Regions from separate parts of the Homo sapiens genome. Here region 1 is linked to region 2. Evidence: fine-mapped expression QTL. A gene starts in region 2. The other region holds a variant in brackets. All regions are shown on one strand. Distances are from middle to middle. Region 1 overlaps SIGLECL1 (SIGLEC family like 1). Region 2 holds the start of VSIG10L (V-set and immunoglobulin domain containing 10 like).

Evidence for each region. PIP is the estimated chance that this variant, and not a neighbour inherited with it, causes the effect.
Region 1: its variant is fine-mapped to the expression of VSIG10L in cerebellar hemisphere (GTEx, PIP above 0.99).

The regions. Positions count from the first base shown.
Region 1 is chr19:51,265,413-51,270,779 of GRCh38, forward strand. SIGLECL1 (SIGLEC family like 1) reads left to right here. Exons shown (of 6, transcript NM_001385465.1): 3 at 1-237; 4 at 365-470; 5 at 1,961-2,117; 6 at 3,159-3,918. The coding sequence ends at 3,185. It overlaps LOC107985327 (a long non-coding RNA gene), which reads right to left. Exons shown (of 4, transcript XR_007067309.1): 2 at 4,751-4,832. Among named protein-coding and RNA genes, the nearest start is that of LINC01872, 3.2 kb to the right of the region's middle. The variant T/C (reference allele first, on the strand shown) is at 2,599.
Region 2 is chr19:51,339,032-51,344,398 of GRCh38, forward strand. VSIG10L (V-set and immunoglobulin domain containing 10 like) reads right to left here and starts at 3,108. Exons shown (of 10, transcript NM_001163922.3): 1 at 3,054-3,108; 2 at 2,122-2,976; 3 at 1,402-1,695; 4 at 984-1,268; 5 at 1-111. The coding sequence starts at 3,093. VSIG10L-AS1 (VSIG10L antisense RNA 1) reads left to right here and starts at 989. Exons shown (of 5, transcript NR_186316.1): 1 at 989-1,686; 2 at 2,035-2,143; 3 at 2,819-2,954; 4 at 4,657-4,780; 5 at 5,041-5,367. RefSeq lists silencers at 1-222, 873-1,142 and an enhancer at 5,331-5,367.

The DNA.
Region 1 (5,367 bases), 74 kb before region 2:
TGCAGTGCAGCTGTTCCTTCCATGGGATTCCCACACCCTCTGTGCAGTGGTGGATGGGAGGAGTCCCCGTGGGTGTGGATGGCATGGATGGCAGCCTCCAAGTGACTTCCACCATGCTTGGCCCCTGGGCTAACAGCACCATCAGCCTAACTGAAGAGCCAGAAATGGGCATGAGACTTCTCTGTGAGGGGAAGAACCAAAACGGAACCCATGCTTTGAGCATCCTACTGATGTCAAGTGAGGGTGGAGGGGGCTCGGTGACTGGGTGAGGACAATAAGCGGGATGGGGACAGTCACTGGGGCTAGAGAATGGAGCAGAGTTTTGGCTCCGATGCCAAACTTCTCACATGCTCTCTGCTTCCAGGAAAGAGTTCTTTGGCTGCCCAGGCCTTCGTGAAAGGGCTGATCCAGGGTGCTATCTATGCGGGAATTGTAATTGCGCTGCTCTTCCTCTGCCTCCTCCCTCTCATGTGAGTACTAGGGTTAATATTCACCCGCAAGCCTACTACCGGGCAGGCCCTGGCTGCAGCCCTGGCACAGAGAGAGCAAAGACAGGACCCCTCCCCTCAAGGAGCTTAGGGTCTAAAGAGGGAAAGATGTACCAAACATGGTCACCACAATCCAGGGCCATGAGGACTATACAGAACCGTAAAACTGTGTCATAAAACAGACACTTTGAACACATTTTATAAAGGAGAAGACCAAGAAGGGACTTGGCAGCCCTGGAAAAGGCAGCAGCGAGTCCCCGGGGTGCTGTCTGTGGTGGGCCTGCAAGGGTTCAGTACTCGTTAGCTTGGTGGAAAGTATTAATAGTACAGGTTGAGTATCTAATCCAAAAATCCAAAATCCGAAATGCTCCAAAGTCCAAAAGTTCTCGAGGCACCGACATAATGCCACAAGTAGAAAATTCCACACCTGACCTCATGTGATAGTTCAATGCACACAAACTTTATTTCATGCACAAAATAATTTTAAATATTATATAAAATTACCTTCAGGCCATGTGTATAAGGTATATATGAAACATAAATGAATTTTGTTTTTATACTTGGCTCCTATCCCCAAGATATGTCATTATGTATAAACAAATATTCCAAAATCTAAAAAAAAAAAAAAAAATTGAAATCTGAAACACTTCTGGCCCCAGGCATTTCAGATAAGGGATATCTAACCTTTGTATGCAGACGCCCAGAGGCATGTTTGAGGCATTTCCAGTGTCTTTGTATAATGTCAGGTGCATTGAGAGTACCAGGTAATGGCTAAAAATGAGGTTGAAAGACATCCTTGGTGTTGGTTCACAGGGTGTTAAAACTTAGCTGCATGTATTAGCTAGAAGCATGGAGTGGGAAGGGGTGAGTTGCAGGAAGTCAGGCCAGAGAGACGGGCAGGGGAGCCTGTCCAGACAGCTTGGACTGAATCCTCATTTCGGAGCCATGGAAGAGTGCTAAGCTGTGAAGGAAAGCTTGAGCTTGGGGTGGGACACAGATTAGAGAGAGTGAGAGCCAGAAGGTCAGAGGCCAGGCAGGAAGCTGGTGCAGGGGACTAAGCAGGAAATAGAAGGCCTGACCTGGGGCAAGTGATGAGGGGCAGCCAGAGAGGTGGGACTTGGGCATGGCTGGCTATGGGGAGACAAAGATGAGGAGTGAGGTGTCAGGGCAAACTGAGGAGCTATTTTCAAAGTATAATCAACAGGACTTGAAGACCAGTAACAATCTCTCTGCCAGTTGCAAGGCCCTTTCTTAGCTGACCTCATCTGAGCCCCACAGCCTAATAAGCAGGGTATCCCCCTTATTCAGAGTGTGAAACTAATTCCCAGAGAGGATGTGTGGCTTGCCCTAGGTCATACAGCAAGCTGGTACTGTTGTTGAGGCTCTAAATCAGAAGTTCTGGTCAAGATAGAGCCCATTTGGGGATTCAGGGAGATGGAGAGCCAGAACCAATCCAAGGCTTATTTCCTTAGAGTGAAACATATCAGAAAGAAGCAGGCGAAGAAAGCTGCAGCGATCAGAGCAAAAAAGAGCTCTAAAGTCAGAGCAAGCCAAGAACTTGAGATGTCTCTGAAGCCTGAGGAACCAGGAAAACCCGTAGTCGCCACATTTTCTGAGAGCCGGATATTGGTATGTACCTATTGTGTCTGGAATCTAGTCTATCGGAATACTGATAATAAGACCCACAGGGAAAGGAGCACACAGTGTTTTGAAGGTGTTATCATCCTCAGTCTTGCAGGATACCTAATGCTAGAGTGTGCTTTCAGGTCATTTTATAAATAGGAAGCTAAGGCCCAGAGAGGAGAAGGATGAAAGTTAAGAGAAACAATTTAAAGAACAATTAAAATCAATTTACACGCACACACCATTACATTGAATCCCCACTGAAAAGGCAGTTGGGGAAAATCCTAATAGCAGTTGTAGCATCAGAGTGGAAACCAAGGATTTGGCCTCTGAGTGTATGGCCGGCAGCAGTCAGCTTGGTGTAGATGCCACAGGCCAAGTCAGCCTGAAGTGGTTAGAGATTAGGCCAAGCCCAGGTTACTCCTTCATTCACCCTGTACCCCACATCTTCAGCAGGGCTTGGAAGATACAGTGTCCGAGGTTGCTA[T/C]GCCTCACTGTTATTTACCGTTTATGATTCTCCAGAATCAGAATTATCCTGCTGCCCTCCTAACACCCTGCATGAACAGTTGGTGTCCTTTTGTAGATAAGCCATCTGTTAAATTCCACCAATATTTCCTGCAATATCTCCTAATCTTTGTGCTCGACAATGCTGGGGTCTCAGAAATGGGCCAAACCTAGGCCTTGTCCTCAGAGAGCAACTAGACTGGTCGAGAAGGCACCTTCACAGTAGGGGATGCTGAGCCAGGAGTTACGGTGGTGCAGAAGAGGGAGGGACCAAACCTACCTGAGGAAGTCAGGCAAGATTCCCTGAGGAGTCTAAGGAACAGTCAGTGTTATGGGTACTGAAGATGCACAGAGAGGACCAGATGGAGAAGACCGAGTTGCAGGCTTTAACCATGGGGTTGTGAGGAAGGGCTAAGCCAGTGCTCACTCCATGTTGCCTTAATTCTGTGCACAAGGGGGTGTCTTTTTAAGATTTGGATACCTCACCTCTAGACCTGTTCCAACATTCTTTTTTCTTTGTTCTATTTTGCACCTCGCTTTCAGGAAAAGCAAGATAAACGAGCCAGCTAAGCCTGTGGAACATGCCTCATACCTGGAGTCGCCATTATCCCTGGAATTACAAAGATCTGCAAAATTTATAGCGCTCACAGAAACCCTGGAGGCTGTAATAAACCTGGAGCCCCCTGGACTCTCCTCAGCTCACAAAACCCTCTCAATTCCTACACATCCCTTAACACTCATTCTCCATTGAATAGGTGGTTACTCTTAGACCTAGTCTTAGAACCTCTGAAGACACACTTTGTAATTTGTTGTTTGGCTAAATGAGAAGAAATCTGTGCCACCCTGGGAAGGTGTCAAAAGAAGGAAAAATACATGTGACAATATGAATCAAGTCCATCAGCAAGTTACTTTTGAGCGCCTACTGTGTGTCAGTGCCTGAGATACACCTACAAGAGCGCCAGGCTTTCAAGCCTTCATATCTGGATAGAATCCCAACTTCAGTGCTTGGTGGCTGTCTATCTTTGGACAAGATCTTTCATTCCCCATCCTTTGAACATCACATGACCCATATCTGGGTGGAGAATGGGTGAAAAGTACTGTTCAGAGATGCAGGTGAGAAAAAACATGACGATGGGCCCTGAATGCCAAGATTCATTGGAGCTTTGGAGCTTTATCTTGTAGGACCTTATCCTGACTCCCTTAGAATGTAAGTTCCAAGAGAACAGGGACTTTGTCTGCCTTGTTTTCTACTTTTATCACCAGCACCCAGAATGATGCCTAAAATACAATAAGATCTCAAGAATGTTTGTCAAATGATTTAATTAATTATAAGCTGTTTTAAGGTTTGAAGCAAGCAAGTAGAGTGACCAGATATAGACAGAAAAATCATTTCCGTACCCTGACCCCACATATGATATATTTAGAATGGGTAAGGCTGGAGGTAAAGATGCTAGTTAGGAGGTTATCGCAATAGTTCTTGGCCAGATTGAAAGGCAGGCATGCAAGGAATGGGAAAGGGATTCTGGCATTAGAATGAACCACAACTATGTATTGTTCCTCTCAGAATGGATGACAACCTCCTTTCTAGCCAGATGCTAGTAGATTTTTTTTTTTTTTGAGATGGAGTTTTGCTCTTGTTGCCCAAGCTGGAGTACAATGGTGCAATCTCGGCTCACTGCAACCTCTGCCTCCCGGGTTCAAGTGATTCTCCTGCCTCAGCCTCCCGAGTAGCTGGGATTACAGGCACACACCATCACACCCAGCTAATTTTTTATAGTTTTAGTAGAGACAGGGTTTCACCATGTTGGCCAGGCTGGTCTCAAACTCCTGACCTCAGGTGATCCACCTACCCCGGCCGCCCAAAGTACTGGGATTACAGGAGTGAGCCACCGTGCCTGGCCAGATGCTAGTAGTTTTCAGTAGGTGGAAAGAGGGTCATCTCTTCCCTGGGGCAATATTTGTGGGTAAATACAGTGATCCTGTAGCACCAGCTAGATGGTCATCTTATACTCAGGGTGGACGTTTACGTTAGCCCCCACATGTATAAGCACCTCTCACAGGCAGTTCACATTTCACAGAAATATCAGATGTGCCACCATGTGCCAGATAATGAGGGGAAGAAGTAAGACACTCACCCTGCCTCCGTGGAGTCATGGTCTACATAGACAGACGATGAAGAAATGCAGACGAATTTATAGCTTAAAATGTTGATAAGTGCTAGAAAGAAAACAGGACAGAATACTATGAGAAAGCACAGGAAAGGAAGCTAGGTTGGATTACAGAGTCAGAGAAGGCCTCTCAGAGAAAGTGACACTTGCCTTGAGACCTATAGGATTATTAGGAGCTGGCTAGACAGAGGGAGCAGTAGATCCTAAGCTCTGACATGAGAACAGTTTGGTGAGTTCAGGAGCCCAGAGCAGGCCGCTGTGACTGGAATTGACTGAGGGATGAGCTCCTGAAGGGCCAGAACTTGCAGGCCTTCCAGGGCTCTAGTGGGAAGTTTAGGTTTTGTCCTCACTTATGGAGGGTTATTTCCTCTTATGCTTTGTAATTCTGGAAAGTGCAGATTGTTTGAGAATCACATCCAGTGGAGCTGTGTGAGAATCCTGGGCAGCAGAGGTTTTGAGTTGAGGATAGAAGCCTCTATGTAACAGGTTTGGTGTTTGCTTCTACTAAAGATACATCCTCTGTTTGGGAGGGAGAGGCAGACAAGGCTGGGGAGAGGGAGAGTGCCAGTGTTGGGAAAGAAGAG
Region 2 (5,367 bases):
GGAACTGCAGGGAGGCAGCAGGGGCCCCGCCGGGCCACGAGCAGCGGAAGCGGAGGCTGCGGTCCCCGGGACCCCCTTCAACTGAGCACTGTGGGGCCCCGGGGGGCAGGTCTGCGGAGAGAAGGGAGAGAATGAAGATGGAGTCCCTTTCTCATTTCTTCTCCAGCCCCGCCTCCCCGCGCGGTGACTCCACCCTTCTTCACTAGCCCCACCCCATAGGCGCTCACACTCCCCACTTTTCCTGCGATCCCGTTCCCTTTTCCCATTAACTTCCTCGCTAAGTGGGTAGCCCGCAGCCCTGCTGACTGCCCAACTTTCTTAAGAAAACTGCATCTTCACACAATGATATTTCTCTTCCCAAACGTAACTCAGCCCCTTCCTTTCCAGCTCCACCCACTTCTGCCAGGTTACTTCGCCCCCTCCTGGATTGCACTCCGAGAAGCCTCCCCTTTTCCCAGATATCTCCGCCCTTCCTTGTGGACCCCTTCCCCTTTCTAAGACAATTCTGCCCGCTTTCTAAATGACCTCGCCCCTTTCCCTGGTGACTCCGCCCCCCTTGCCAGGTAACTTCTCCCTTTGCTGATCCCACTTAAGCAAATTAGTTCTTTCCTTTTCTAACTCCCACTCTTTGCCATTTAACTCCGCTTGTCGACTTTGTCGAGTGTTCCATGCCCAGGAATGTCCGCCCTCTCAGTGCTGGGCCGGCCCGTCAGTCCTGGTCATCCCTGCCACTCTATTTGGCTCCTTCCCTTATCCTCTTTCTGGCCCCGCCTCTTATCCTAGGTGTCTCCGCCCCTCCGCGCTGGCCCGCCCCACCACGGGTATCCCAGCTCCTTCTTGGTGACCCGCCCTCCCGCTGGCCCTGCCCCACCCACCGGTATGCTGCTCCTCCTTGCTGGCCCCGCCCCTTTCCTCTAGCCCCGCCCTCGTTCTGGCCCCGCCCCTCTCCCAGGCATTCCCCTACTCCCGCTCCAGCCTCTCACCCGCCACTGTAAGGTTGAGCAGCGAGCGGCGGCGGCGGCCGGTACGCGGGTTCGCCGCCAGGCAGGCGTAGGTGCCTGCGTGGCCCGGTCCGACCGCGGGCAGCAGGAGGCGCGACCCCGCGGGCACCGCGGCCTCGGCCGGGTCCGCCAGGCTCCACGTGATGTCGGCGGGCGGCCGCGAGGCGGCGGCGCAGCGCAAGGTCACGTTACTGCCCGCGGTGACAAAGCGGGCAGGCGCGGCGTCGCGGTCCGAGGAGACCGTGATGGTCGGCGGGTCCGGGCCGTCTGGAGGGAGGAGGGGTCGGGACCGCGAGTGTCAGGGTCACCTGGGACGCCGCTAGGACTCCCGGAGACTGGGTCCCCAGCCCGCTTCTCCCCAAGGACCCCCTGTCCCCGACCCGAGGCATCCCCCACTCACAGAAGACGCTGACGTCGGCGGCAGCCTCCCTGTGGCCGAAGGGGCTGCGGACGCGGCAAGTGTACCGGGCGTGGTCGCTGCGCACAGGGCGCACGATGAGCAGCTGGTCGCCCTCTGAGCGCATCCGGGGCGTCTCGGCTCCCTCCGATTCCGCCGCCTCCAGGGCGCGTCCGTCCCGGCTCCAGCTCAGCTCCCCGCGACCTGGCCCCCACCCCAGGCAGCGCAGCCGGAGCTCGGCCGCCCCCTCCTCTGTCTCTGGAGCCTTGGGCTGAACCGACAGCTGGGGTAGGGGCTCTGGGAGAGGGAGAATGGGCTCAGGACCCACCCAGTCCTGGAGCCCATCTTTGGTCCCCTTAGAGGGAACCCCAGCCGCTGCTCCCTCTAAGCCCCTGGAGTCTCAGCCCCCATCCCTCTCCTCTCATAAACCTATGAGTTTGAGCCCCCAGACACCTCCTCTCCGGGACCCAGGAGTTCGCCAGAAGAGGCTCCTAGCCTCCTCCTCCTCCCTCAGACCTGGGAGTTCAGGCTCCCAGGAGTCTCCATCCCAGGTCCACCTTTGCTCAGACACCCCTGCCTTGACCTCTAGCTCTTTTTCTCCCTTCCTCAACCCAGAAGTCCTCTTCTCCTATCCAGGGACCCCACAGCACCGTGACTTGCCCAAAGCCTGGCAGAGCAGAGCAGCCCCTGCCGCCTGCACGCCGGACGCCAGGGCCCACTTACCATACACACCCACCGTGAACTCGTGAGTCTGCTGGGAGACCCCTGCCCGGATGACCTCAGCCGTGTAGACCCCTGCATCGTCCAGCTGGGCAGAGGCGAGCTCCAGAACCCCCCGGGCCTGGTCAAATCGCAGGTGGTCTCGGTGAGCAGGGTCCAGGCTGATCAGAGGTGCCCCTGGCCCCAGGCCCCCAGCTGCCAGCACCTTTGAGCCCCGGCGCCAGACCACCAGAGAGGTGGGGGGCCCAGGGTTGGGGATTGGGACTAGGGGGAGCCGGATGGTGGTCCCCACCAGCACAGCGAGTGGGCCCCCCACCTGCTGGGGAAAGCTTGCAGCTGAGTGGGTCTCTGCAGAAAATTTGGATTCAGGGCTCTGGGCAGAGAGTTTAAGATCCATATCATCCGGGGAGAATTTTGAATCTGGGGCCTCAACAGACAGTTTGGTATGGGAGACTTGAGTAGAAATGTTTGAAGCTGGGGTCTTAACAGTGAAGGAAGGCTTGGGGTCTTTGGCAGGAACTTGAGGATCCGAAATATCAGGAAATACTTCAGAACCAGGGGTTTCAGAGAAGGGGGAAACCGGGCTCAAATCTTGGCCCTCAGCAGAAACATTTGACCAGAAGGACCCAGACATGTTGGAACTCAGGGCCTCAGGAAACCAGCTGGAATCAGAGATTCCAGCAGAGGCTTTTGAATCCAGGAACTGATCTGGAACTTTCCAGCTGGGAGGTTTGATGGAGGGAACTTCCACACCCAGCCCCTGGGAAGAGCTCTTTGAGTCTGAAGAGAAGGCAGAGGAGAAGTTGGTTTGCTGAAGTCCAGAAGAGGCTCTGAGGGTGAGGATCCCTACCAAGGAGGCTGCAGAGAAGAGAGGAAGGCATTGGGGGAGGCTGCTGAGGGAGACTGACAGGGAAGGGACTGAGCAGGGAACTTACCCAGGAGTAGGAAGAGTGGCAGAGCCTGTGGGTTGTCCATGGTGCTGGCCTCACTGAAAGGACACTGGAGAGAGACCCAGGACTGCACCCATCCCTCCCGGGTCAGACGAGTCCAACAGGACTGGTAGCTTAGCTTCCTGGGAGGGGAAGGGAGCCAGACCCAGAGGGAGGTGCCAAGATCCTCAACCCCAGTGTGGTGGCTGAGCTGCCCACCTCATCCCACTCTCTTCATTAGCTGGTCCCATCTGCAGAGAGGCCCAGCCTGATCCCTGCCCTCCCCACCCCCAGGGGGAAGCTGGAGAAAACATTCCCAGCTAAAAATGTGGGAGCAAATTTGTGAGACAAAGCCAGGAAGACTTCCTGGAGGAGGGTGAGGTGACCTTTCCGAGAGCCCCACCTCTGATGGCCACAGCTTCAGAGCAGGCTTCCTCCTCCCCAGCCTCCTGGCTCCTTCCACTCTGTCTTGCCTGCAGCCTCAGATACATCTGACCCTGCTCCTCCTCTGCTCCAAACCCTCCCACGGCTCTCTGTTGCCCTCAGAACCAAGTCTCCAGGTGCTATCTCCTGCCAGGGCCTCTATCCTGAGACCAGAGCTGCATTTCCGCATCCCCGAGGCCCTCACATGGCCTGTGTCCCGCTAAACTCAGACTCTTTCCTCTAACCCAAACTTCCTCACACCTCCAGGATGGCTTCACTGTCTTCGCAAATGCTGGAGAACATTCCCACCTCCTCCCTCCCTGTCACCACTGTCGATCTGAGTCCAACCCTCCTCCCCCTAGTTCTCACTGGCCAGGCTCTGTCTTCTCTTCCTGCCCCGTCTCCCTCCTCTGCCCAGTCTCCTCCATTCCCTGCCAGGGTCCTTCTATACCCAGAGCTGAACCTGCCTCCCCCTGCTCACAGCCCTCCCCTGGCTCCCCAGTGCCCTCTGGAGACATCCAAGGTTCAAAGCAAACTCATGCACAGCCCCCACTCAAGCACTTGAACATCCTGCCATTCTTATCCTGCCCGCCCATCTCACCTCCCAGTCCTCTACCTGGAATGCTCTCTCCCACTCTCCACCTCCCTCCAACCTGGCTAAACCACAACTTGTCCTTCAGGTCTCACCTTATTAAGAACCATAATTACCACTTAATTTGAGCCAGGAACTACGCTAAATGTTTCCTATGCACTATCAGGCTGAACACTTCTAAACACCCTATAAGCTGAGTGTCATTATACTCACTTTGCAGGCCAGGGGACTTAGGCTCAGAGAGGTCAAGGGACCTGCAGGAGGTTGCACAGCCAGAGGGAGAAGCTGGACTTGGGACCAGGATGGTCAGACCATTGACTCCTTCTGATAGCTTTTCCCACCATCCCATGTGGAGCTTAGGGCCTCTGCTCAGCTCCCAGTCCTCTAAGCTTACCCTGGCCCAGTTCTCACCAGTAATAATACTGGTAATATATATATATTTTGAGATGGAGTCTCGTTCTGTCACCCAGTGAGTGCCTCAGCTCACTGCAGGCTCCATCTCCCGGGTTCAAGTGATTCTCCCGTCTCAGCCTCTGCAGCAGCTGGGAGTATAGGTGTGCATCACCACACCAGGCTAATTTTTGTTATTTTTAGGAGAGATGGGGTTTTGCCATGTTGGCCAGGCTTATCATGAACTCCTGACCTCAAGTGATCTGCCCGCCTCAGCCTCCCAGTGTTGGGATTACAGGCGTGAGCCACCGTGCCCGGACTAATATTGGTAATAATATATATTTAGCATTTTTTGCATAGCAGGTGTGGTTATGGGGGTGCTACATAAATTAACCTTTCAAAACTCCATGGAGTAGATGATGTAGCTTAAAGAGGGCTGCAAATTTGAGCGTCCTCCTGTTAAGATGCGGGGTCTATGTCCCCTCTGCTTGGATCTGAGTAGCTGTGTGACTGCTGGACCAAGACGTGGAAGTGGCCCTGTGCCAGGATCTGCATCTAGGCCGGCATATGCCACTTTCTGTATCATAGGACACTCCCTCATGGAATCCAGCCGCCACACTGCGAGGATCAGCAGCCCCATGGAGGGGAATCATGGCCCCTGGTCAGCAGCCCCAGCCAGCTTGCTGGCTATGTGGGTGAGCCCTCTTGGAAGTCAATCCCCTGGCCCCATTTGAGGCACATGAACTGATCCTGAACTGGATCCAGGAATGGATCCAGTGGGATTTGACCCAGGGCCCTGGGACCCAGAACCCATACCCTTAACCTCTACATGATGCTGTTACTATTTTCATCTGCAGATGAGGCAACTGAAACTCAAAATAGGAAGGAACTCACCCAAGATCTAGCTGGCAAAGG